7 linked regions of the Homo sapiens genome follow. The protein of the gene in region 6 purifies or fractionates together with the protein of the main gene of each other region. This does not show direct contact. Each region holds a gene or a part of one and is shown on either strand. Other genes may lie near its edges. The genes, in order: L1CAM, HK1, EIF2AK4, VWA8, PPP6R1, HSPA12B and ARHGAP35.

Region 1 (3,500 bases), on a different chromosome or scaffold from region 6:
TATTCCAGGCCTAACTGACAGTCACCTCTCCCCAGAAGCCTTCCTGGCCTAGTCCCCAGCCTTCCCTGAAGTTCCAGGAGAGGTGCCACCTGGGCTGGCCTTGGTCACATCCTGTGGCACAGCGGTCCGCTCAGTCACAGTGACAAGACCTTTCCCCTCTTACATCTCCCTCGGCTATCGTGAGGCTGAGTGAGATGGGGCGAAGGGTGTCAGCAAGGAGAAAGGTCGGCGCCAGCCTGGTAGGCCGAGGACACATCAGCTGCCAGCTGAGCCACTCTGGTGGCCTGGCCCAGTGGGCTGCAGGGACAGACTGGGAGTTAGGAGGTAAGGAAGGGAGGGCACTCACGGACAACGTAGATGTAGGCATTGGCCAGCAAGAGCCCGTGCCGGTTGCGGGCCTCACATTGGGTCACCATTGTGTCACTGGGCTGCACGTTGCTCAGGATCAGGGCGCCACGCTGAATCCGGTACTTCTGGTCTTTGGCCAGCTCTGTGCATGCAGCAGGTGGGCCCATGGGCCACAGCCCGGCATTGAGCTGCGTTGAGGCCCTTCCTCACCCTCCTCTTCCTCTCCCCCACAGCCCCCAGGGCTCGCCACACTCCCCACTCCTGCCTGAGGCCCTGCTCACCCTCCACAGGGATCCCGTTGATTCTCCAGGTGACCTCTGGTTGGGGCCTGCCCTGGACTTGGCAGTCCAGGCGGGCAGTCTCTCCTGGCCCATATAGATGGCTCTGGGGCTTGTGCAGCCAGTACGGGGCAGCTGGGAGGAAGGGGAGAGCCGCCCTGAGCCCGCAGCCAGCAGCTGGCTCTTGACCCGGCGCAGACCCTCCCCTCCCCCATGACAGTGGGCATCACAGGCCACTGTCCCAGGAGGTCCATACCCTCCACGGTGACATAGTACGCATGCCGGGCACTGCCCAGTGAGTTCTCGGCCAGGCAGCGGTACTCGCCATCATCCTCCTCGCCCACTTTCAGCAGCTGCAGGGTCTTGTTGTGGTTCTGGTAGGTGACACGGTCGGCTGGCATGGGGCCACTGGGGCGCAGCCATTTGATGGTGGGCGTGGGACTGCCCGGGAGGCAAAGGGAAGAGAGCAGAAGGGAGAAAGGACAAGGCCAATCACCCCAGCCCCCTATACCCCGCGGTGGTCTGAGCTCCCTGCTAGGGCTCCGCCACCCTGCCCTGCCCTGCCCTGCCCTGGGTTCCCAGACTCACAAGCCCTCGGCGATGCACTCCAGGACCAATGGCTGCCCCTGCAAGGCCACCAGGTGGCTGCTGGAGTTGGTGGGGAAGAGCAGGCGCGGCTTCCTGTCAATCATGCTGTTGGCTGCCAGGAGAAAGTGGGTGGGTGGGCTGCCCACTCTTCCCTCCACCCCAGAATTGCAAGGCTGAGGGACTCGACACTCCAGCCAGCCCCCGGGGCCTCTGTGTCTTCCTCCATTAAGGAGAGTGTCCTGTCTCTGCTCTCGACGCCTGGGAAGGGGTCTGGGCAGGGTAGAGGTGGGAGCCAAGCTGTTCTTGAGGAAGCCTGGAGTTGTCAGATGGACCTATGGTGGGAAGGGCCATGCCTGAGGGTGAAAGGAGTCAGGGAGAGAGTGCAGAGCCTCTGAGACTCACTGGCCTTGACCCGGAGGTCAATGGGTTCCTTCTGAATGATGGTCCTGGTGCCTGGGAAGTGGGCGTGGCAGATGTAGTCTGAGTGGTTGTCGGAGGTGAGCACATTGGCAAAGTAGAGGTTGCCGTTCTGGCCCATCGTCACCCGCTCGTCCTGCTTGATGTGCAAGATCTCTGCAGGGGGCAAGGAGGCCGAAGTCATGACCCCGTCCAGGAAGACACCCCCGCTAACACCCCGACCCCACGAGGCAGCCGCTCGCCGGCACCCACTGCTGTTCATCCAGTAGATCCGGAGAGGCTCTGCACTTGGGGGAGGGTTGCAAGGCAGAACCACTGACTCCCCTTCCTCCACCTCCACGGGCTTCACTGTCTCCTTTGGCCACTTGGGGGCACCTAGAAGGGACAGACGGGCTGACACTCTCCTCCTGGTCCAGATGGTGCTAGGCAGGAGAAGGGAGGTGGGGGCAGGGGGGTGGCGGGCTACACCAGGGATGGACGAGGGGGCGAGAGGGTCAGGCCAGTAGAAACTTCACAGAAAAGGAGGCAGACACTCTGGATACCTTCTGGACTCATAGCAGAGACTAGCACTTAGGGAGGCCAGGGTGAGCAGGAGACCAGGAGGCCAGGAAGGGTTAACCTTCCACGGTTCTCAGCTCTCCCTGCCCACCCTAGGAAAGGACGGGTGGGGGGAGGCTGAGGCTGAGGTGCAGTGATGGGGGAGGGGAGCTGTGGAGGGATGCAGGAGTCACAGACCCTTCCATCATCCTGACACAGAAACCATGGCAACGGTTCCCAAGGTAACTGGAGGGGTGGGGAGGGGAGAGGAGAGCGCTCAGGAAGCAGAAAGCTCAGGGAGGATGGAATGCAAAGGGAAAACCCCAGGGAAAAGGCGACACAGATCAAGACAGAGCCGTGGAGCAAGAGAGACCAAGTCGGAGGTGGAGGGGAGGAGATGGAGAGCCAAGTGGAAAAGCCAGAGAAGAGGGGCCCTGCTAAGGAGTGCAGGTGTAGACAGAGATGACTGCAGTGACTCAGGCAGGTCTGCCCAGAATCAGTCACTCCCCCCACCAGCCCGCCCCCCCCTCCCCCCGCCACCTTCCTGCTCAGCCATGAGGCAGGCACCAGGAAAGCCTGAGGGAGTGAAAGGGCATGAGATGACCGGAAGTGCAATGGAGACAGAGACAGGGCAAAGGAGGAGACTGCACAAGAAACAAGATGGGCCAGGGGAGAAGCTGGGGTGGGGTGGAGGGCTGGCAGGACACCCAGGCCCCTCGCCACGAGACAACTGGCTGACAGCAGCTTCCAGCCCACAATCCCACACGAACTCCGGGACCTGCCCTCCCTGGTCCCTGCAGCGCCTCGCACCCTCGGCCATGAGCCGGATCTCATGGGACATGGCGGTGCCCAGCTTATTGCTGGCAAAGCAGCGGTAGATGCCCTGGAACCTCTGAGCAAAGTTGCTGTTGTTGCCCGTGATGGTGAAGGAGCCAGAGTGGGGCGACTGGTACACGGTCACACCCAGCTCTTCCTTGGGTTTGAAGTGGACACCATCCCTCGTCCAGCGGAACCTGTGGGCGGAAAAAGGCCCAGAGGCCTGAGGCCCTGGAACCCAACGGGGGCTGGAACAGGCTGGAGGGACAGGTGCAAGCAGCCAGGGCCCCCAGGGGATGGACTGGGAGATGGCGAGGACTTGGGGTGATTAGCAAGGTTTGGGGCTTCTGGGCTTAGAAGTTAGGCAGTCCAGGGAGGCACAAGGCCGGGGTCAGTGGCAGGCAACAGGGGCTGAGACGGCAGAGATCACTCACTGCACTTCGGGCTTGCCACTGGCCTCACACTTGAGGCTGATGTCATCTGTGGGGAAGACAACCAGGCGCCGTGGAGACTGTT
Region 2 (3,500 bases), on a different chromosome or scaffold from region 6:
CGTAATTGTATTTTTAAAATATTTTTAAAGTATTTGCAAAAATCTTGATAATGAAACTTTTATTAGCCATTTCTTTCTTTTTTCTTTGTAATTTCTTGGCTAATTTTTTGGACAAGAAAGCCTAGGGATTTGCAGCATCACATTAGAATTTTTTTAGATTGTGGTAAAATACACATAACATGAAGTATATCATCTTAACCTTTTTTTTTTTTTTTTTTTGAAGGCAGGGTCTTGCCCTGTTGCCCAGGCTGGAGTGGAGCGGAGTGGTGTGCTCTCAGCTCACTGCAACCTCTGCCTCCCAGGTTCCAGCAATTCTCCTGCCTCAGCCTCCCGAGTAGCTGGAATTACAGGCATCTGCCACCATACCCAGCTAATTTTTGTATTTTTAGTAGAGACGGGGTTTCACCATGTTGGCCAGACTGGTCTTGAACTCCTGACCTCAGGTGATCCACCTGCCTTGGCCTCCCAAAGTACTGGGATTACAGGCATGAGCCACCTCGCACTTGGCCCCATCTGACTTTTGAACACCGTGCTTTTGACCACTGTGCTGTATTATCTTCCTGTCATGGTGGAGGGCAAAATCTTTTTAGACCTGGAATTTTTTGTATGTGATACTCATGTAATAATGAGAGTCTTCTCTTTTTATGTGTGATTATGAACGATTTCATTTTTCCTTTTTACCTCTCTGCATTTGCTAACTTTTCTACAGTGGATGTATATGATTTGTGTAATGAAAAAAGCAGGTGCAGAAAATGGAATTAGGCTGGGCACAGTGGCCCATGCCTGTAATCCCAGCACTTGGGAAGCTGAGGCGGGTGGATAGCTTGAACCTAGAAGTTTGAGACCAGCCTGGGCAACATGGCGAAACCCTGTCTCTACTAAAAATACAAAAAAGTTAGCCGGGCGTGGCCCCAGCTACTCGGGAGGCTAAGGTGGGAGGATCACCTGAACCTGGGAGGTTGAGGCAGCAGTGAGCTGTGATTGTGCCATTGCACTCCAGCCTGGGTGACAGAGCAAGACCCTGTCTCAAAAAAAAGGAAAAGAAAAAAGAGTTAAAGAGTGGAGAAAGAAAGGGTGGCCGGAGGTCCCCAATAAATGCTCAGTCCAGCTGTTGTGGAATGTCCCCCCTGCCCCCATAAGGTATTCCCGGCGTTTCCACAAGACTCTAAGGCGCTTGGTGCCAGACTCCGATGTGCGCTTCCTCCTCTCGGAGAGTGGCAGCGGCAAGGGGGCTGCCATGGTGACGGCGGTGGCCTACCGCTTGGCCGAGCAGCACCGGCAGATAGAGGAGACCCTGGCTCATTTCCACCTCACCAAGGACATGCTGCTGGAGGTGAAGAAGAGGATGCGGGCCGAGATGGAGCTGGGGCTGAGGAAGCAGACGCACAACAATGCCGTGGTTAAGATGCTGCCCTCCTTCGTCCGGAGAACTCCCGACGGGACCGGTGAGGGCCTGCTGGGGGCTGACATGCCTGTCCTGCTCCTGCCAGGAACTGAGCCGCAGTGGGGGAGGTTGGATTCGCCAGTGGATGCCTTCACACTGGTGATGCACGATTTTGCCAGAGCTAGAAACTCCCTCACATCTCTGTTTTCCATTTTTATTAACTGATTTGTCATGTGTGTGACTCAGGGCAGTTTAATTTTCCTGGTCAGACCTCCCAGGCAAGTGCTATCTCTAAAACCACAGCCCTGCTCAGAACAGTGCTCTTAGCTGGGCAAGGTGACACACGCCTGTCATCCAGCTACTTAAGAGGCTGAGGTGGGAGGACTGCTTGAGCCCAGGAGTTCAAGACCAGTCTGGGCAACATAGCAAGACCCTGTCTCAAAAAAAATTAAATGAATAAAAAAGAAGTGTTCTTAAAAGCTGGGCAAATCCCACAGCACTGATTAGGTTTTCCCAAAGCCAAGGAAAGCCAGCAGAAGGATAAACACTCAGTGTACCCTTCTTAAATCTTGATAGAGTATGCATGAGGCATTCAGGGCCTGGGGAGTTTCGCATTCAGGCAAATTGTAGAACAAAATCCAACCCTTTATGCTAACCTTGGTAGTTTTCACTGGAGCTGATCATTATGGGGAATCTGAAGAGCTTTTCAGGTGGGTCCTTGGAGTAACGAATGTTTGTGACAGGAATGTGTCCTATGTGTAAGTTACCTAATACCACATTATAAGCCACCCTCACACTTAGTGGCTTAAAACAACCACGCTTTATTATTGTTCATGCATCTGTGGGTCAGTTGGACAGTTCTGCTCATCAGGGCCAGGATTGGCTGACCTCTGCCGGCCTCATTCCTGCATCTGCAGTCAGCTGTTGAGTCAGCTGGGAGGCAGATCTCAGACGCCCTTCCCCACATGTCCAGCAGTTGGCTGTCAGCTGGGGTGCAGGGGCCCCTGGCCCTGTGTCTCATCCTTCAGTGGGCCACCTGGCTGTTCAAGTGGTGGCAGCAAGGGCTGCGAGGGAGAGGGGAAGACTTCAAAGCCTCCTGGAAGCCCAGGCTGGGGATAGGTTCAGCTTTGCCTCTGCCACACTCTGTTGGCCTGAACAATCCTAGGGCTGGGCTAGATCCCAGGGGAGGAGAAATTGACTCCATGTTTCAGTGGGAGGAACTGCAGTCATGTTGCAAAGAAGGATTTTGCACATGCAGGGAAGGGAATGATGCAGCTGTTTTTGCAAATACCCCACACCTTGACATAAATTATTATTTTTTGTAGGAGATTTTCATTGTTGCAGCCCTGGTGAAGTCTGTGTATTGTGACAGGTGGTTTACTCACATGCTCTCCTCCCAGTGTGGCTCCAAGTCTGTGGTGGTCAGAGATGTGGTGCCCACTCTTCCTCTGAGTCTGTGCTGTGTCCTAAAGGGAGGAGTTGCAGCTTCTCCTCTATGTTTGCTATGGGGTTCTCCCCTTGAAAGTCTGGAGTCTTGGGGTTACTGGCTGCCAAGAGGCACTTAGCTGTTTTTGACATTCTTTACGCTTTTGACTGCAACAGAGAATGGTGACTTCTTGGCCCTGGATCTTGGAGGAACCAATTTCCGTGTGCTGCTGGTGAAAATCCGTAGTGGGAAAAAGAGAACGGTGGAAATGCACAACAAGATCTACGCCATTCCTATTGAAATCATGCAGGGCACTGGGGAAGAGGTGAGATTACAAAACCATAGTGCATGTGCACTGCACACACGGCCAGTGGCACCGGCAGTCACGTGATGACCAAAATCCGCCACGGGGTGCCCACATGGATTTGTGTCCTTGTGGCCCAGAAGCACCAGATGCTTTTTGCCATGCCTGGCTTGTGACACTCTGGTGGCTGAGAAGATTCTGGAAAAGGAGGCTCACTCTGCATGTGTGTGGGGTGTGTTTTCCTACGTGTGTGTGTGTATACACACTTTGGTCCATGTGCACTGATAAAATTAAAACCACAGAGAGCACGGGCGATCCTTTCTTTTCCCCTGCAGCTGTTTGATCACATTGTCTCCTGCATCTCTGACTTCTTGGACTACATGGGG
Region 3 (3,500 bases), on a different chromosome or scaffold from region 6:
TAATTATAAAACATTAATGAAAAAGATAATTAAAAATTTATGAAAGGAAATTAAAAGAGTGCCTCTCTAGGTTGTTTTTTTTTCCTGACACCAAATACATGATGCCTTTTCTGATACCATGTGGGTGTCCAGTAGTTCAGTTCAATTCTGACACTATCTGTAGTTAGCAAAGACCCCACAGATTAAGGACCCAGTTCCACAAGATTGCCTCCATTTCTGATGCTAGTGGCAAGTCCCAGTACTTCTGACCATTTATAGCCAGTATTTATAACTGGCTATAAATTTAGGGGTTTCCACCACCCCCTCCTAAGTTGCGATAATTGCTAGAATGCATCACAGAACTCAGTTTCTGTGAGTTACATTTACCAGTTTGTTGTAAAGGATATGGCTCTGGAATAGCCACATGGAAGTATTATGAAGGGTAAGGTGTGTGGGAAGAGGCACAGAGCTCCCATACCCTCTCCAGGCCTGGCACCCTCCCAGCACCTCCCTGTGTTCTTCAACCAAGAATCTCCCTGAACCCTGTCGTTTAGGGGTTTTTATGGAGGTTTCATTATGTAGAGATGATTGATTAATTAAATCTTTGGCCACTGGTGATTGAACTTGATCTTCAGCCCCCTACTCCTCCCTAAAGATCTGGGATGGGGCTGAAATTTCTCACCCTGTAATCAAGGCTTGGTTTTTCTGGTGACCAGTCCTGATCCTGAAGCTATCCAGGTACTGACCAGAGTTCCCTCATGAGTACTAACTCCGGTATGGTTGGAAGGGGTTTGTTATGAAAAACATAAGATGCTCCTCTCACCCCTGTTGCTCAGGAAATTCCAAGGGTGATAGGATCTCTGTGCCAGGAACAGGGGTCAAATATCAAATATATATTTTTTTATTATACCATAGCCTCAAGAATTCAAAGTGTTTATTCTTGAAAAATCAAAATAAAGAAAAAGGTATAAGTGCTATAATGTTATATAAGTGCTAAAATATTAATTATAGCATTATTTGTGAAAGCAAAGATATTGGAAGCAATCTAAATGTCAAATACTAGAGTGAGGTTTCTCCACCTTGGCACTACTGACATGTGGGCAGATAACTCTTTGTTGTGGGGTCCTTCCTGGGCATTGTGGGATATTTAGTAGCATCCCTGACCTCTGTCTGCTAGATGTCGGGAGTACATTTCTCCCCAGGTTGTGGCAACCAAAAAAAGTCTCCAGATGTTGGCAGATATCCCCTGGGGCCAAAATCACCCCTGGTTAAGAATCATGGCACTAGATAACTATTCAGGTAAATCTTAATGTGTCCACTTGATAAAAATATTATGGGATGATTGCTTTTAACATGGAAATGCTTATAAAAGTTAAAAAGCAAACATTATAATATCAGCTACATAAACTATGAATTATATAGCAAGGAAATAAAGAGAACATTAGAATTTTTTTTGAAGTTTAATTAGCATCATTGATGATTTTTTCTCCATTCTGTTAATATTGCTATATTATGATTACTTATTTTTTAAATTATAACAAAAATCTTAATTTGGGGTAATATTCTTATCCTTTTGAATGTGGTACAGGAAAACATTGCTTTTCTGCAGAATAGTCCTGGGTGCCACTGTGAGAGAGAGACTCCCGGGTTAGATTCTGGAATTCTGGAAATTTCAGCCCCATCCCAGACCTTTGGGGAGGAATTCTAGAAATTTCAGCCCCATCCCAGCTCTTTGGGGAGGAATCTAACCCAGGATTCCATACATAGAGTCAGGACTGTATGGTTTGTTTTTCTGTTCTTTCCCTCATATAGACTACTTTCTCTCAGATTTCTATCTATAGAAATAGATAATGATCATAGCACCCTTTCATACTGAAGCATTGAGAGAACGCATAGATAAGTGCATACTCAAGACTTCACTGGTTAAATGCCATGAATTACTCAGAAATGCTTGGTAAAAAGTGATGAGTCATCATCTCTTCAGTAAAATTAAATAACTCCTATTTAATCTGAGAGAGTTGTTATTGGATATTTATTGGTTGGGAATAAAATGAAACCCGAGGGCTGGTTGTGTAATGTCCTTGAGTTGAAAGTGTTGACTTAGATGAGCTCTAGGCAGAGGTGCAGAGAGTGTGCATGACTAGATGTATTTATACACAAGAAGTGAGCATTTCCACCTGGTTTCGATCAGAATGAGTGATTGGGATGCAGCAGTGTGTTGTGGGAATACTAGAGGGATCACCAGGGCTCCACTCATCTATTTATTCTTGTTCTGCTTTATGCTAGAGCACACCTGAATGCAGAGCGCTTGGCCTTGCCAGTGAGCTGTCAGAGCTAGGTTAATTCTCATTGGCTGCAAGCTAGGGTAGAGAATTACCATACAAAGGAGCACATGGTTAAGTTACTGGGCTAGAGTCAGCTGCAGAACTGGAATGATTTTTTTTTTTTTTTAAGGTGAAGAACTCAGAGTTAGGGATCCAGGTCAAATCGTAGGAAATAAATAGTAATTGATGTTGGGAAATTTTAATCAGATTGTAAAGCTGAAATTAGATACAGGGGTCAAGCCCAGTAAGTCTAACAGCCCAGACAGAAGGCTTTGGCCAGCCCACTTCTTCCCTGTAGGACGCAGGTGACTCCACTGTCAACTGGAGTTGCAGGGATATGGTTGAAGTCCCTTTGAGATTAAGGGCCTTGGGCCCAGAGTGCTTTCAGTTTAGCAAATATTAATGCAAACAGGCTATACTTTCTGGAGTAACTCTTTTTTTTTTTTTTTTTTTTGCCTTTTCCAGAGTTCCTGAAATAGAGTTAAAAAATGCCAAAGGTCTATCAAATGAAAGTGTCAATTTGTTAAAATCTCGCCTAGAAGAACTGGCCAAGAAACACTGTGGGGAGGTAAGATTTGTTAAACTGGAATTAAAAGAAGACAGTAAACTTCCCCATTACACCTCAAATCCAATTTTGAGTAGCATGTTTTGTGTTTTATTGGTTCTACAAAAGGGAACATTGTGATTTTTATTTATTTAATAGGATTAATGAAATTTGTAGTCTATAGATGGTACTATTGATGCTGAAGAATGTTTCTGAAAATTGCTAGGCATGGTGGCTCACACTTGTAATTCCAGCACTTGGGGAGGCTGAGGTGGGAGGATCACTTGAGCCCAGAAGTTTGAGACCAGCCTGAGCAAAATGGCGAGCACCTATCTCTAAAAAAATTAACTGGGTGTGGTGGTGTATGCCTATAGTGCAAGCTGCTCAGGAGGCTGAGGTGGGAGAATTGCGTGAGCCCAGGAGTTTGAGGTTACAGTGAGCTATGATCACACCCCTTCACTCCAGCCTGGGCCATAGAGCAAGACCCTCTCTCTTAAAAAAAAAGAAAAAAAGAAGAAGAATTTTTCTGAAAACAGTTGATGTGAACCCAGCCATACTTTTTGTATACTTTGGATCTTGCATCATGACTTGAACCTTTTTGTTGGAAAATGTGGGCAGACAAACAATTTCGGACCACCTCTCCCCTTTGCATA
Region 4 (3,500 bases), on a different chromosome or scaffold from region 6:
CTGCAAAGATATGATAAATCAGAGCAAAACTCAATGGAAAATAAATCTATCTTCATGACTGTTGAAAATTTTAATCTACAATAATGACAATCCAACAAATTTAACTTTACACAGGAACAAAAAACCAAATATCACATGTTCTCACAAGTGGGAGCGAAACATCGAGGACATACGGACACAAAGAAGGGAACAACAGATACTGACACCTACTTGAGGGTGGAGAGTGGGAGGAGGGTGAGGATCAAAAAACTACCTATCAGGTACTATGCTTATTATCTGGATGACCAAACCATCTGTACAACAAACTCCTGTGACATGCAATTTACCTATATAACAAACCTGCACACGTACACTTGAACCTAAAATAAAAGTTAATAAATAAATATATAGAATGTGTAGATGGAAAAATAATTAACTTTAAAAAATTATAGAAGACATGACAGAAAATTACCATCAGAAGGTTAAGCATTTAAACTGTATTACATGAACCCCCACATATGGAGAATACTCATTTCCCCCTACTAAATTCTATCATTGCATTACGCTTTCAATGTTAATTTTTGAAGTGTAATGAAACTATTTAGGTATAACATATTTTCTACTGACTGATTTGGAAGGAAGACTTGATCCAACATGTTTACCAGGAAATTATGTTTTTAATTACCCCTCAAACAGGCTTACAGATTATAGGTCAAACTAAGGGAAAGAAACATTTATCCGATAATTTAAAAAATGGGTGCTTACCATGAGATCTGGAAAACCAACAACTATTGTAGCATAATTTTTCTCATCTGAGAGAATTCTGTTGGGAGAGGCAATCTTTTGTTCCACAGCTGAACTTAGATGTTCAGATGATAGTTGATCACTGGAAATTTTATGAGGTATGCTGAACTCTGTTTCTGAAAAGTACAAACATTAGACACCATATGCTCCTGAAATGCTCCAGGAATTAATTTTTTGCAAGATTTTATTCTCAACAAGTCAAATGGAAAAGAACAAGTTAAAAAAGAGAAAACATTTTAAATTACATTCATGGGCTTTTGTTTGAAAAAATGCTGTTTTTATAATCAAGGCATCTTCCCAAAGTGATTTCAAGTATTTACAGAATTCAAAATTTTATTAGGAATAAATATTATAATTAATAGCTCCCTGTAGAAAAGATGTAAAAACTGACCCAACCAAGGGTTGGCAATGGTATGTTTTAGATTTTTTTCGTAAGTACTATTCATCCCCCAAAACTGTGATAAATTAAATAGAAATCCCAATAGTCTGCAGAAAAAAGATGTTATCCTAAATTAGACTTGCAACCTAAATGTATATAAAAATACTGATCTGTCAGTTAAAAAAATTCAAGGACAGAGCTTACAACAGTGAACTTCCTTATGACAATTTGAGATACTAGATTCTTATTTACTATTTCTGGTGTAGTGACTAAGTTTTTTCTTTTGGTGTAAACTTAACATAGGCTGGTGTTTTGTTCTTAAATGATTCTAGAAGACAGTATATGTACAAGCATGCACTCACACAGCCATAAACACAGATGACATAGTATTTACCTTGTGTAACTCCAAACCCTGTGCTGGGCGGCTCCTCTTTCAGCACATACAACTGGCAAACCCCACTACCCTCAGATTCGATGTGTGCAGGCTTAGTTAAAAGATATTTCCTGCAAACAAACAAAACATCTAGCTTAAGTGAAATTTTTCTTTTTCTAATAGTAATAAGGCCAGACTAAGAAAAATTAGATTCTCCTCAGTCTCTTTTTTATAGTTCCAGTATAATTTGCAGTTTTAGAGTTTCATCATGAATTAACAAATAACTTCTCAACACTGTGTTAAAGAGCAGTGCACAACAGCAATACAGTAATGAATGTGAGGCAAAAATCCAATGCTTCCTATAAGAGAAAGGGTTGTGGGGAGGGGAAGCAACTCTAATGGGGTGCACTCTTATTATCATGTAACCCTCTCTTGATAAAACTCTTTGATCAGCCAGGAAGGGGGAGTATGACTTCTGATTTGTGATCAGCTAGGAGATAGATGCCCTCACAACTGTAGTCTCCTTGATCTACTTATTTTTAACATTTCTAAAATATGGATGTATATATAGGCAGAAATCCTCTGCAATGAGATACTTCTGCTTGTCAGCAGAGGGGCAGAAAGAGTCTGCACTTAGCTAGTGGAGTTGTGCATGAGGGAAGGTGCTCAAAGTCGACACCGCCTTTCATCAAGAACTGCACAGTCCAATGGGTCAGATAACATAAACATAAACATAACCACATCCAAACCAGAATACACAAGATAAAAAGAGAAAGACACTTCTAAGGTGTGAACTCTGTGAATTTACAAAGAGGCAACAGCTCTAGGATAGAGACTGTGGCTCTTTGAAGGGAAAATCTACTTTGAAGTGTCTCCAGTTTAGCAAGAATACAGTGAATTCTCAATGTACAAATAGGAAAAAGCCCAAATAAATATGGATCATATGAAAAAGTCATGATTTTTTAACTGTTAATTTCAATGTCATTTTCTGAGAAGTGACATTTATTTTTTCTCCCCTCCTCAATTCTTATAAGTCTCATATATAGAGATGCTGCCAAACACAGAAATTGTTAAAGGACAGACACAGGAAAGACAGAACAGTAAAGATGTTGGATAATTCATAAATAAGATTGAGCTACAACATACTCCATGATACACTATATAAAGCCACTCACTGATTTGTTTTGCTCTCCACCAGAAGCCATTTGTCCTCTGCTACAAGGAAAACTGTCTTGAGGTTGATGGGAAGTGAGATGGTGTGAGTTCGCCCTTCTAGAACATCCAGCACAGTCAGGCTGTTCCTGGAAAAGAAGAAAACTGTATCTGAAAGGAAATGGTGAGGATAATGGTTGAGTAATCTGGCATAATCATTTCATGATACATTATGCAACCCATAAAAAGAATGTTTTAAGATTAAGTAATAATATAGAAAAATGTTAATTAAAAAAACAGATATGCAAAATTCTAAACTATGTCAGGGTGTGTATAAGTAAAAATAATGGAAAGTAGTAACCATTGCCATGTTAGTAGTGGCTATGTCATGGAATTGTGAGCACTAGCTTTTCTTATATCTGTTTCTCAATATTCTGCAATGTGGGCAAGTTACTTTATATTAAAACATTCATAATTTGGTTACATTCACTTTATAGTAAACAAGTATAATCAAAATAGGAAATAGAATGGGCCAAATAAGAACTCCAGTTTAAATCCTCTATAATAAAGAGCTCACCCTTTTTCTTTGTAGAACACCAGCCAGTTTTTGTGTGAAAATTCTTTACACATTTTATAAGTTTCCTAAAGACAAACAAAACAAGATATTCATATTAAATGTGTCAGATACAGTCATGTCCCTCTTTAGCTACTTCCCCTTAAATAAAATAAAGTTCTTCAACTAGTAAAACATGTAATTCTCAAACAAGCTATCTATTTATCTGCTCTAAGACTCTTATGGTAAAATGGATTAAA
Region 5 (4,184 bases), on a different chromosome or scaffold from region 6:
GAGTCACAACAGAGCAAATAAGCCACAACGACACACCATACCCCAGCAGTGGAGCAAAGTTCTCCTCCTCTGCGCTGCTAACATTTGGGCTGGACGGTTCTTTTCGGTGTTGGGGCTGCCCATGCACTGGAGGACACTTAGCAACATCCCTAGCCTCCACCTCCACTCACCAGATACTGGCAGCATTCCCCCCAGTTGTAACAACCAAAAACATCTCCAGATATCGCCAATCGTCCCCCAGGGGACACAATCGCCCCCAGTTGAGAGCCACTGCAATGGACATTCCCAAATCAAATAATAATCGAAAGAACGGCCAGGTGTGGTGGTCCATGCCTATAATCCCAGCTCTCTGGGAGGCTAGGTAGGAGGACTGCTTGAACCCACGAGTTTGAAATCAGCCTGGGCACCACAGCAGGGCACCAGAGCAAGACCCAGTCTTTACAAAAAATACAAACATTAGCCAAGCGTGGTACAAAAACACAAAAATTGAGCAAGCATTGCAGGACGTGCCTGTAGTCCTAGCTACTTAGGAGGCTAAGGTGGGAAAATCACTTGAGTCCAGGAGTTCAAGGCTGGGCAAACGAGCAAAACCCAGTCTCAAAATCATCAACATCAAAACAGCTACTGATTGCAGAGTGTCATGTGCCTTGCATTCTGCCACAGGCTTCTACAAACCCTGCACTTAATCCCTAGATCCACCCTCTGAGGAGAGCAGTCTGCTATCCCCACTTACAGACGAGGAACAACTTGTCCAAGGTCTCGCTTGGCAGAAGCCGGACTCGGCCTAGGTCTGTCTGGCAAAAGATCCTCTAACAATTAGCTGGACTGCCTTCTCATGATCCCAATCCCAGAACTAGAGTTAAAAAAAAAAAAAAAAAAAAAGCATAACATTTTCAACAGCACAAGCAGCTCCAACAGCCATCCCACCACTAGTAAGCACACGTGGCCGGGCGCCGTGTCTCCATGTGTGTTGTGCATGTATGTAAACCAAGTCCTCATCCTGTGTTATCCAGGCAATCTCGAGTCCTTGCTGCATTTGCAGCGCACGCTAACAGTTAGACCCTCGCCCTTGGGCTGGATGAAATCCCACTGCAGTTTCTCTACAACTGTGAACCCAGTACCGCACCTGACAGTCTACGCAGCTTCCTTTCCTGAAACATCTTGCCTTTCAGGCGGGTGTCTATGGTCATGTCTGTGTGTACTACGAGCGAGCAAGAAAGACCCCAACCAGAGGTCCCATTCGAGGCCTGGATAAGCACGCCGGGCGGAACTACTCTGCCCCTCACCCTCCCAATACATCTGCACTCAGGACTCCGACCTTCCTTCCTTGACATATCTGCACGTGCTGCTCCTTCCCCCCCCGGAAGGCCCTTCTTCCCACTCTCCATCTGTCACCTCCTACTCATCCTTCCTAGACAGAAAAAGCCGTCCGTCCAGTCAGTCTCACCAGTGCCTCCCGCTCTGTGGCCCCCTGCAGCTCCCTAAGTCACCTCGATCACGACACGCAGGAATTGTGACTGTCCGGCTCTGCCTTTGTACCCCCTCCAGGGACCGGCCCCACCTCCAGGGCAGGGCCTAGGGCTGATGCCCCCTCCTCGGTGCCCAGCGCCAGGCTCCCTGCCTGCCCTCAGCAGGCTTCATCTCACTGAAGCAGGCCCGAGTGGTGGCTGCTCCAGAGAAGCCCCGCTCCCAGGTCCCTCGCACAAGAAGCCGGAGGCGGGAGAGGGTCGGTCAAGGTGAAAACAAGCCCCGCTCCTCCAGTCCTGAGCTCCGGGGATCTAAGGAGGCTGCGCCACGGAAGAGGTGGCGGGGCAGAGATCGGGGCGAGAGGGAAGGGTGTAAGCAGGCAAAGTCCAGGGTAACCAGGGAGAAAGACTCCTGGGGGGCCGGGGAACCGGCCAGAGAGGCAAGAGAGCGGAGCTGAGGCTCAGGGACTGGGGAGCGCAGCTGCAGAGAGCGAGTGGGAAAAGGCCGAGAGCAAGAGACTGAGACTAGGGTGGCGGCGGAGCTGAGGTGAAGAGATTAAGAGACTGGGGAGGGTCGAGGGGGAAGAAACGGGGTGCCGTGGAGAGGAAACCCGAAGGAAGGAGGGAAAGGATCCGAAGCAGAAAAGACCCGCGGGGGTCCCGAGAGGGAAAAGCCTGAGGGGACGCGGAGAGGGGAAGACGTGGGCGCCTGGCCCTGGAGAGAGAGGGTCGGGCGACGCGGGCCGCTCACCTGCGAGGGGGGGCGGCGGCTCCTCGCACTCGGGGCTCATCGGGGCGCCCCCCCCCGCCCCGCCGCCGGCGGCTCCGGCCCCTGCTGCGGGGCCCGGTGAGTGGGGGCGGGGGCGGCGTCGGGGACTCGCGCAGGCGCCGGGGCTCGCGGGGTCCGCGCAGGCGCCCGCGGGTCGTGGGGTCCTCGCGCGCCGGGTCCTGCAGAGTTGAGGGGGTCAGCGCCGGGTGGAGTTGCCGACGGGCGGGGGGCGTCACTAGTCCGCGTAGGCACCTCCGGGGTCCGCAGGCGAGGTGGGCGTGCGGGCCGAGGCGGGTTGGCGAGCCGGGTCGCGAGGCCCACGCAGGCGCCTCAGCCGGGAAGACGGGGGAAGTTGCCCCGGTTTCCACAGTCCAACCGAGCGCCCCACGGGAGGGGAAGGCGACCTCCTCCGCGGTCCAAACGGGCCGCAGAGCCGAGCAGCGACCGACGGAAGCCGAGGCCTACTTCCTTAACCACCCCTTCCCCAAAGCCGCTCAATCTCCGGGCTCTGCGGCCGGCCTCAGGGCCTCCGACGCCCGGCTCCCTCCGCCACTATCCCACAATCCCCCTAGCGCAGGACGACGCAGGAGGCCCCGCCCTCCCGCGGCTGTGTTGGTGCGCAGGTGCGGGGGGCGGGGTGCACGCCTGGGCGGTGCAGTGCGCGTGCGCCCGGGCGCTCCCGACACCGCCCACTCTTGAACCCCGCCGCCGCAGACGCGCTTGCGCCCGTTGGTGCCAACGGTCTGCCCCGGAATAAACCCAGACAGCTCAGTGAGCCGCAGCTGCGCACCGGCTCCGTTCCAAGGCCCCGTGAATATTCCGCTCCAGGATTTCCCTTCCCACTCGCTCCGTTTGGAAATCCGTTCGCTGTTCTGTCTCCTCTAATCATAGTGGAGCTTTGGCTCCAGGGTCGGGCTCTTGCGAAATCCAGACCTGGTTTTCGCTCCAGCCAAAGCCAGGCGCCTTCGTTCCGTCCGGCTCTCGCGCTTAGCCGCCTCCGAGCCTCAGAGGCCCTCAGTCGTTTCCGTCTGCTGGCGATAGTCCCGGCCGGGTCGCTGGTGTTGCCAGTTCCGCCCAAAGCAGCTTCTAATAGCATCAACTGAAAGAGACCTCCTAGACCTTGTGTCTAGATTGATGAAGGTCCCTCTGGCTTTGAGCCTCGGTTTCCCCAACTTTAATAGCTCCCCTCTCTACCCATGTTAGAGGCCTACTGTAAAAATCGTGTGGGCGCGAGGAACTTTTTTGTTTTTGTTTTTGTTTTAAGACTCCGAATTGGCCGGGCGCGGTGGCTTACGCTTGTAATCACAACACTTTAGGAGGCCCGAGGCCGGAGGATGGCATGAGACCAGGAGTTGGAGACCAGCCTGGGCAACCTAGGGAGACCCCCGTCTCTACAAAAGAAAATTTAAAAAATTAGTTGGGCCTGGTGGCCCGCGCCTGTGGTCTCAGCTATTCGGGAGGCTAAGGCAGGAGAATCGCTTGAGCCGAGGCTGCAGTGAGCCGGATTGCACCACTGCACTCCATCCTAGGAGACAGAGCGAGAACCTGTCTCAAAAACAAAGGGCCCAGCGTGGTGGCTCACGCCTGCCTGTACTTGAGCTCAGGAGTTCAAGACCCCACGCCTATAATCCCAGCACTTTGGGAGGCCGAGGTGGGCGGATTGCCTGAGCTCAGGAGTTTGAGACCAGCCTGGGCAACACAGTGAAACCACGTGTCTACTAAAATACAAAAAATAGCCGGACGTGGCGGTGTGCGCCTGTAATCCCAGCTACTCAGGAGGCTGAGGCAGGAGAATTACTTGAACCCGGGAGGTGGATGTTGCAGTGAGCCCAGATCAGGCCACTGCACTCCAGCCTGGGTGACAGAGCGAGACTCCGTCTCGAGAAAAAAAAAAAAAAAAAAAAAGAGCAAATTCACCCCTCCTTTGCCCTCTTTGTTCTATTGAGACC
Region 6 (4,138 bases):
TCAAGAAAAAAAAAAAAAAAAGACTGAGTCCTCGCTCTACACTGGATTCCACATCCAAACCATGGGCCTATACTCTTCCCAGCTATCGGAAGCTTGTCCAGTTATCTACCGTCTCTCATTGTGCGATATGCTGAGTGCCCCTATGCTGGGGTTTCAGGGATGGCAAGAGCCTATTATGGCACCTAGCGTGAGTGCATCATGCCACATCTCTGTGCCTCAGTGCCCTTTCCTGTAGAATGGGTGACACAGAGGGCTTATGTTAACAAGTCCAGATATGCAAGGTATTGATAAAAGCAGGGAGTTGGGCAGGTTTGAGCAGTGTTCTTTCCCTTCATGATGCAGATTCTGAATTTTCTTGTTAGATATTTTGGTCTTACTGAGAATCGCATTCTAGTCATCATGAGTTCTTTAAGGAAGGAGGTAGGAACTAAATCAATCTGTGTTAAGGGCTGGGTGTGGTGGCTCATGCCTGTAATTCTAGCACTTTGGGAGGTCAAAGTGGGTGGATTGCTTGAGCTCAGGAGTTCGAGACCAGCCTGGGCAACAGCAAAACCCCATCTCTACGAAAAATACAAATATTAGCCCAGCGTGGTAGTGCATGCCTAGAGTCCCAGCCACTTTGGACGCTGAGGTGGGAGAATTGCTTGAGCCCGGAAGGTTGAGGCTGCAGTAAGTCATGATCACACCACTGCACTCCAGCCTGGGTGACAGAGTGAGACCCTGTCTCCAAAAAAAAAAAAAAAAAAATTGTGTTAAAGAAGGAGGATCCCACGGATTCCCCGAGAGGTGGAGGTAAGCCAAGAGGTGGCTGACTGCCAAGCGAGCACACACACCCAGGGACACTTAAGGAGAGTGCTGACCACAGAACACGGGACAAGCCCAGCTCCCGAAAGCTAGGTCTGGGCAGAGTCCACAGCTGAAAATGAGGGGAGGCTGAGCCCCGCTTCAGGGGCCTACTAATTTCAGACTGGTGGTGCCTATGGGTTTGAGAGTAATTGAGTGGGACAGTTTGATTTACACAGAAAGGAACTCCATTTCCTGGCTACAAGCACATGCCAAACTCTGGCCCCAGCCTGATCCCTAACCCTGCCCATGGACTGACCCCTAACTCTTGGCTTCATATTGACCTCTAGTCATCAGCTTCACCCTGACCCCTGGCCCTGACTTCTACCCAATAGGCAGGGCCGATTAGTCACTGGGGACCAGGATAGGGTGTGGCCCAGCAGGAACTCACAACCAGAGACTCCCATCCCAGAGTATCCCCTGGTCTTACAATAGCCTAGGACGAACCCTGCCCCCACTCCCGCTCCTTTTTTTGAGACAGGGTCTTGCTCTGTTGCCTAGGCTGGAGTGCAGTGGCACGATCACGGCTCACTGCAGCCTCGACCACCTGGCCTCAAGCGATCCTCCCACTTCATCCTCCCAAAGTGCTGGGATTACAGGCGTGAGCCACCTTGCAGGGGCCCAACCCTTTGCCTGACAGAATCCTCGGAGGATCTCTTCCTGTGTGGGGTGTTTCAGCTGGGCGCTCATGTCCCCAGGAGCACTATGGGAATGCAGTGTTCTGGGTTTCAGGGCTCCACACGATGCCTGTGTAGACAAAGAGCCCACCCAGGTCATTCCAGCTCCCCTCCTCACTAGGACCCTGCCTCTTCCGCCTGCTGCTCTCTGCTCAGCACCCAGCCAGCCCTGTAATGGAACAGGACTCCGTCAGCGGGCTAAGTGAGGCCACAGGCGTTTCTTCCAAGCCACAGACTGGGCCAACCAGGGCCCAAAGCACAGATCAGAAACGGCACCCAAAGGGCTGCCCCACTCTGTTCTGGAGAGGAGCCCTTAAGAAGATGGGACCATGTGTGGCTGAGTGAGGTGGCTGCCCCATCCTGCGCTGGGGCAGGGAGTGACAGAAATGGCCTCCCATGGCCCCTCCCTGTCCTCATCTTTGCTTTCCATACATCCTGCCGCACCCCCTTGGGTCCTCATCATGGGAGCAGCCAGTTCACAAACAACAGAGCCCCTCCCATGCTCTGCCCACAGCCCCCCATTACCCCTCTGGCCTGGGATTCCTGCGCTGCGTCTGCTCTCCGGAGGGTCCCTAGTTTCGTGATCACTCCCTTCCAGTCTCTCTCATCAACACACGCTAACCTCACAGATAGGCTCCACTGCCCTAGCGGGAACCTGGACCCCACCCCACCTGGACCTCAAGCTGGCCCGGAAGACCAGGTCCCAGCCTCAGACCCTGGCACCTGGGCCACTCAGTACTCTGTTGCGCTTCGGGACCACAGGGCCTGGGACCCCTGAGGCACCCCCCAACACACACACATACACTCAACTCCCAGGTTTCCACCTCAGACCTAGGCACCGGGTCCCTCAGTTTGGCTCCCTGGAGCAGGCCCCAGCCCACACCAGTCCTGCCAGCCCCTAAGACACAGGAGTTTCTCCAGCCTAAGCCTCTGAGCAGCTGTGCGAGGGACAGGGGAGGTGGTCCCCCGAAGCCCAGGTGGGAGACCAAGGTCGCTGCCCCAAGTGCCTTCCCGAGCCCGCAGCCACGCTGCAGAGAGGGGCTTGCAGATCTGTCCCCACCAGACAAAGTCTGGAGGTTTTTGGTGGGGTCTCAGCCGACAGCCCGGGACGGCAAACCTCCTCGCCTTTCTCCACTCGGGGCGCCCGGCAGCCCCCGCCCCAGAACTCACCTCCGCCCTCCCGACAGCTCCAGCCCCGTCCAGCCGCCGCGATCCCGGGCCCGCAGCTCGTTGGCCGTGCCCGCTGCGGCGGCCGCAGCCCTCGACGTGCGCCCGGCCCTGAGGCCTCCCGCCTCCTCGCGCCGCCCACCCCGCCCGCCGCCCCCTCCCCCAGGCCGGATGGCCGCGCCGCCTGCGCCGCCGGGTCGGCCCGCGCTCCCGGCCCAGATGTGCGAGGCCGGGGCGGGGCCTGCCTGCGCGGGCCTCCGCCGAGGGGCCCAGCCTGGTCCCGCGTCCAGGGCCCCTCCCTGAGCCCCTCCTGCGCCTCCCCCGCTCCCCTAGCAGCCCAGGGGGTGGGAGAAGGGAGAGGGGGCGGCGGAGGGAGGGGAAGAGGAGTTCCAGACCCTGGTCGGCCTCCTGCGGTCCAGCTGCTGAGGGGCTCCCCCGCCCCGCCCCCACAGGCCCACCTTGGGGCTCAGCCTCGGCCCCTTCAGCGAGGGCCCAACAGCGGAGGGGGAAGGGCCCGCCCTAGACCCCTCCACTTCCCTGCCCCAGACCCCTCCAGTCCCTTGACCCGGAACCCTCTCTCCTCCCACCCCTACTGCCCCTACAGCTTCCCTAGCCCGGTCCTCAGTGGCCAGAAAAGAGGCAGAATTGCGGATGAGGGCAGGCCCTCGGGTCCCCAGGCTAGGCCTAGCTCTGTCTTTGCTCAAGTTCAGACGACGGAGGCGCGGAGTCTCACAGACTGAGGCCCCATGCCCGGCAAGGGGACCACTCCGCACCAGGGGGCACCCAGCCTCTCCTCCGAGGCACACAGCCTTTTTCTTGTCCTAACCGGGGCCCTTCTGGGGATGCTGGGACTTGGCCTCCAGACAGGGGGTTTGTGGGGTGAAGGTCTCTTTCTGGGCTGGGAACCCGTGGCTCATGCCTGTAATCCAGCGCTTTGGGAGTCTGAGGTGGGAGGATGGCTTGAAGCTGGCTGGGCAACAAAGACCAGCCTGGGCAACAAAGGGAGACCCTGTCTCTAAAAAGTTTTAAAAATTAGCCAGGTGTAGTAGCTCACGTCTGTAGTCCTAGGTACTCAGGAGGCTGGGGTGGAGGATTGCTTGAGCCCAAGAGTTTGAGGCTGCAGTAAGTGTGATCACACCACCGCACTCCAGCTTGGGTGACAGAGAGAGAACCTGTCATAAATAAATGAATGAACGGATGAATGAATGAATTTCTGCTAGGTCCCTCGTGGAGCTTTCAAAGGCAGCTGACTCGTTCTGCCTGTTCCCCTTCCCCTCTGCCCCATGTGCCCCCACAGAAGTTCCAGATGCTTCTCAGTCCACCTCCCTTTGTGCCTGGGAAGGCTGCCCGTCAGAGAAGGGCCCCACAGCCCCATCAAATGAGGCACAGTTCTTGGGACATCCCTTTTGCTCTTCCACTCCAAACCTTTGCAAGGGCTATTTTCCCTCCCT
Region 7 (3,500 bases), on a different chromosome or scaffold from region 6:
AAAATACAAAAATTAGCAGGCGTGGTGGTGGGCACCTGTAATCCCAGCTACTTGGGAGGCTGAGGCAGGAGAATCGCTTAAACCTGGGAGGCAGAGGTTGCAGTGAGCTGAGATCACGCCACTGCACTCCAGCCTGGGCAACAGAGCGAGACTCCATTTCAAAAAAAGAAAAAAAGAAAGTGCCCTTGAGGTGGAACCCTTAAAATAAACCTTGGATTCAGAGAGATGAAGCTGCTCATAGCCCAATAACTAGCTCCCAGGACTTTTTTAGTCATTTCTGATAGACAGATGTTACCAAGACACTGCTCTTATCAAGTCACACTCTCAAGGCCACAGATTTGCCAGGTTTCATTCCTCCTCATTAGGCTGCCCGGGAGAGCTCCTGGAGCTCTGTCCCTTCCAGCCCTGCGGCCTCCCTTCCCCACAGGCTCCTGCGAGTAGACTGGCTCCCAGGTGCCCTTATTTTGTGTCCAGCTGTGAACTCTTCATTTAATTGCCAGGTGTCACCGAATGAAGGAGGCACTGTCCACAGCCCCTTTTACAGACAAGGAGACTCACCCTAAGGTGTCACTTGCCCAAGGTGACACGGTTGACGCGAGAGGCCGGATTTGTACCAGGGCCATCTGAGTCAGGATCTGGACTCCAGACCACCACAGGACCTTCCTCCCTGCTCAGCGTGCCCGTCATTGGCATTCTGTCTGCTCTTCCAAGTCTCACTCTCACCAGGGTGCTTGTGCAACTCCCCCAACTCTGACCCTCTGGGTACGTCACCTGCTGCAAGGTGACTAGGAAGCTATGGGTTTCCCAAAGAATGCTTGCTTCAGGGCTGGGCGCGGTGACTCACGCCTGTAATCCCAGCACTTTGGGAGGCTCAGGTGGGTGGATCACGAGGTCAGGAGATCGAGACCATCCTAGCTAACACGGTGAAACCCCGTCTCTACTAAAAATACGAAAAAATTAGCCGGCGTGGTGGCGGGCACCTGTAATCCCAGCTACTTGGGAGGCTGAGGCAGGAGAATGGTGTGAACTCAGGAGGCGGAGCTTGCAGTGAGCCGACATCGCACCACTGCACTCCAGCCTGGGTGACAGAGTGAGACTCCGTCTCAAAAAAAAAAAGAAAAAAGAAAGAAAAGAATACTTGGTTCAGGGAGTCCGCACCCCTCCCGGATTCATCAGCAGAATGGCACACATATGTCTCCGGCCGAGACGGTCTGGCACCATCATCTATCCCAAAGGAGCCCGAGCCCCCGGGCCCATTAGCAATCATCTGCGCTTTAACAGGCCTCTCTTCACCACCCCCACAGCCGCCAGCTGTGAGGTCGCTGCCATCTCCTTCGTGAGACCCTCCTGTGGTTCTTCTGAGCCCTGGAGTCCACGAAGGAAACATGGGGGCATCTTTCCCTGCACAGAGAAATCTGTCTTAGCCAGCTGGGCTCCAGGTGGGCTCTGGGACGTTTGTGCCTCACCAGCCCCGATGCCCTTCCCAGTCAAGGTGGGCCACACCCACTCGGGGATGGCAAGCCCAGTGGCCACAGCTCAGGCCCCACAGCCAGTCCCAGCTCTGCAACTTCTAAACTCAGATACTTCATCCTCAAAATGGGGTGACGAGTTCCTGCCTCACACGATTGTGGGGACTCATGGAACTGGGCCTGGCGCGGGTTACAAGCTGCATTCCAGGCAGTTGTTTTCCCTCCCCCAGGACATTAGGATTCCATGATAGGCAAAGTGTGGGCGTTGGGGGAAAAGGGGGTGCGTAGTTCCTTTGGTGAAGTGCATAAGAATTCCCCCACTGTTTCCATCAGCCCCTCCAACGGGGATGTGTGGACGGTCCCTGTGTCTCTAGGAAAAGGACAGAGCCTTGGTCTCATGACCGACTGACTCCCTCCCTCGAAGGCCTGTTGGCGTGGGTGGGTGGCAGCGGCCGCCCGTCTCCATCTGGTCAGGAAGCAAGCAGGCTTTCTGCGTAGGGATGCCTGTCTCCAGGGGCAACCGGATGAGCAAAGAATGGTGTTCTTTATGGCGGAGTGTCTCCAGATTGTTCTGTCTTGGGTGGTGGGGGCCAGGAAGCCCCAGGCACACAGTGCCGCCCTTCAGCGGGGGCCTGGGACACAGAGGTGGGCCAGACCCCTGGGCCAGTGCCACTGCCAGGTGTGCCAGCCTTGGGCACAGGCTTTGGGGGAAAGAGTGGGGTTAGTGTCATCCAAAAGCCCTGGGCTGTCCTCAGAGAAGGCCCATCACAGAGCACGCCCTGGGGTGGCCACCAGCCTCGGCCATGAAAGGCAAGGCTTTGGTTTTCTCTCTCCTCAGAAATCAACGACCGGGAGCAGAAGTTGCATGCCCTTAAGGAGGTATTAAAGAAATTTCCAAAGGAAAACCACGAAGTCTTCAAGTATGTCATCTCTCACCTAAACAAGTAAGTCGCAGGGCCTTCTGGTTGGTTTTTCCTCCTGAAAATTGACAGCCAGGGTCAGTGTGTCGCAGAACAAGGCTCTGTCCACAAGCCAGTAGAAGCCTCAGGCCCTGGCCTGGAAGGGGTGCTGGCTGGCCTCCCATGGTGCCCGCTGGTCTCGGTGCCCAGAGCCTCTGCCTCTCGCCCATCCTCAGGCCTCCCTCCTGCTCCTGTCTGAGGGCAGCCCACGTGGCCTCAAACCTGCCTAACACCAGATAGGGCACTTAGCTCCAGCGGGCATGGGGCCTCTTGTAGGCCTGTGTCCCAAAGCTGGCAGAGAGAGAAGATCTTCTGGTTGGTACTGATGCTCCAGAAATCTTCTCCTGAATCAAAAACACCTCAGAGTCCCTGAAAGTCCTCTCACAGCATTCACGTTCCCAGCTGGGGAGAACCGGGACACTGCACCTCGAGAGATGTGCTGCAGGAGACAGCCAGCCTCCGGCATGGAGCACAGCCGCAGGCGGGAGGCCGTATGGTTGTTCCCTGAAGTTCCATGTGTGTGGAGGAGATCTGCTGGCCGAGTGGCCTCTGATGGCGCTCTGGCTTAGGACACTCAGCCTCCCTCCCTCGTCACAGCCGGAGCACCGCCACTGCTTTGGCTGGCTGCAGAGTGAGTCCCTGAGGTGGTCCATCCACCCCCAGGGGTTTGCGGGGCTCCAGGCAGCCTTTCCGAGGTTGGCCATGTAGAGGCACTGGGCTGGAGGGGAGAGGACACTGAGGGCGCAGCCTCCCAGGCAGGGCAGGGTACAGAGAGCTGCGCATGGCCTTTTCTGCTCCACCTGAGGGAAGAAAGGTGGGCTCAGCCTGGGTGCTGAAGACCATGAGCGCCCAGGGCCAGGTGGGGCCCTGCACAGTTCTGACCATTGAGTTTGGTGTCGCCCGCAGGGTCAGCCACAACAACAAGGTGAATCTCATGACCAGCGAGAACCTCTCCATCTGCTTCTGGCCCACCTTGATGAGACCTGATTTCAGCACTATGGACGCCCTCACAGCCACGCGCACCTACCAGACAATCATTGAACTCTTTATCCAGCAGTGCCCCTTCTTCTTC

The links.
Region 1: the proteins of HSPA12B (region 6) and L1CAM purify together in Homo sapiens (co-immunoprecipitation; one large-scale study listed by IntAct). This does not show direct contact.
Region 2: the proteins of HSPA12B (region 6) and HK1 purify together in Homo sapiens (affinity purification with mass spectrometry, with the first as the bait; one large-scale study listed by BioGRID). This does not show direct contact.
Region 3: the proteins of HSPA12B (region 6) and EIF2AK4 purify together in Homo sapiens (co-immunoprecipitation; one large-scale study listed by IntAct). This does not show direct contact.
Region 4: the proteins of HSPA12B (region 6) and VWA8 purify together in Homo sapiens (affinity purification with mass spectrometry; one large-scale study listed by BioGRID and IntAct). This does not show direct contact.
Region 5: the proteins of HSPA12B (region 6) and PPP6R1 purify together in Homo sapiens (affinity purification with mass spectrometry, with the first as the bait; one large-scale study listed by BioGRID). This does not show direct contact.
Region 7: the proteins of HSPA12B (region 6) and ARHGAP35 purify together in Homo sapiens (affinity purification with mass spectrometry; one large-scale study listed by BioGRID and IntAct). This does not show direct contact.

The regions. Positions count from the first base shown.
Region 1 is NC_000023.11:153,869,174-153,872,673, forward strand, and holds part of L1CAM (neural cell adhesion molecule L1 isoform 1 precursor), read right to left. Parts: coding exon 3,419-3,500; intron 3,182-3,418; coding exon 2,979-3,181; intron 2,007-2,978; coding exon 1,884-2,006; intron 1,788-1,883; coding exon 1,617-1,787; intron 1,327-1,616; coding exon 1,215-1,326; intron 1,068-1,214; coding exon 883-1,067; intron 762-882; coding exon 630-761; intron 491-629; coding exon 347-490; intron 1-346. UniProt on the Homo sapiens protein: Neural cell adhesion molecule involved in the dynamics of cell adhesion and in the generation of transmembrane signals at tyrosine kinase receptors.
Region 2 is NC_000010.11:69,381,347-69,384,846, forward strand, and holds part of HK1 (hexokinase-1), read left to right. Parts: intron 1-1,140; coding exon 1,141-1,445; intron 1,446-2,986; coding exon 2,987-3,135; intron 3,136-3,449; coding exon 3,450-3,500. UniProt on the Homo sapiens protein: Catalyzes the phosphorylation of various hexoses, such as D-glucose, D-glucosamine, D-fructose, D-mannose and 2-deoxy-D-glucose, to hexose 6-phosphate (D-glucose 6-phosphate, D-glucosamine 6-phosphate, D-fructose 6-phosphate, D-mannose 6-phosphate and 2-deoxy-D-glucose 6-phosphate, respectively).
Region 3 is NC_000015.10:39,940,615-39,944,114, forward strand, and holds part of EIF2AK4 (eIF-2-alpha kinase GCN2), read left to right. Parts: intron 1-2,768; coding exon 2,769-2,871; intron 2,872-3,500. UniProt on the Homo sapiens protein: Metabolic-stress sensing protein kinase that phosphorylates the alpha subunit of eukaryotic translation initiation factor 2 (EIF2S1/eIF-2-alpha) in response to low amino acid availability.
Region 4 is NC_000013.11:41,688,610-41,692,109, forward strand, and holds part of VWA8 (von Willebrand factor A domain-containing protein 8 isoform a precursor), read right to left. Parts: intron 3,330-3,500; coding exon 3,265-3,329; intron 2,837-3,264; coding exon 2,711-2,836; intron 1,667-2,710; coding exon 1,557-1,666; intron 900-1,556; coding exon 745-899; intron 1-744. UniProt on the Homo sapiens protein: Exhibits ATPase activity in vitro.
Region 5 is NC_000019.10:55,256,218-55,260,401, forward strand, and holds the start of PPP6R1 (serine/threonine-protein phosphatase 6 regulatory subunit 1), read right to left. Parts: upstream 2,801-4,184; 5' UTR 2,218-2,800; intron 1,509-2,217; exon of another isoform or gene 1,396-1,508; intron 854-1,395; exon of another isoform or gene 734-853; intron 1-733. UniProt on the Homo sapiens protein: Regulatory subunit of protein phosphatase 6 (PP6). May function as a scaffolding PP6 subunit. Involved in the PP6-mediated dephosphorylation of NFKBIE opposing its degradation in response to TNF-alpha.
Region 6 is NC_000020.11:3,731,347-3,735,484, reverse strand, and holds the start of HSPA12B (heat shock 70 kDa protein 12B), read right to left. Parts: upstream 2,801-4,138; 5' UTR 2,691-2,800; intron 1-2,690.
Region 7 is NC_000019.10:46,996,997-47,000,496, forward strand, and holds part of ARHGAP35 (rho GTPase-activating protein 35), read left to right. Parts: intron 1-500; exon of another isoform or gene 501-762; intron 763-2,307; coding exon 2,308-2,413; intron 2,414-2,830; coding exon of another isoform or gene 2,831-2,936; exon of another isoform or gene 2,937-3,077; intron 3,078-3,334; coding exon 3,335-3,500.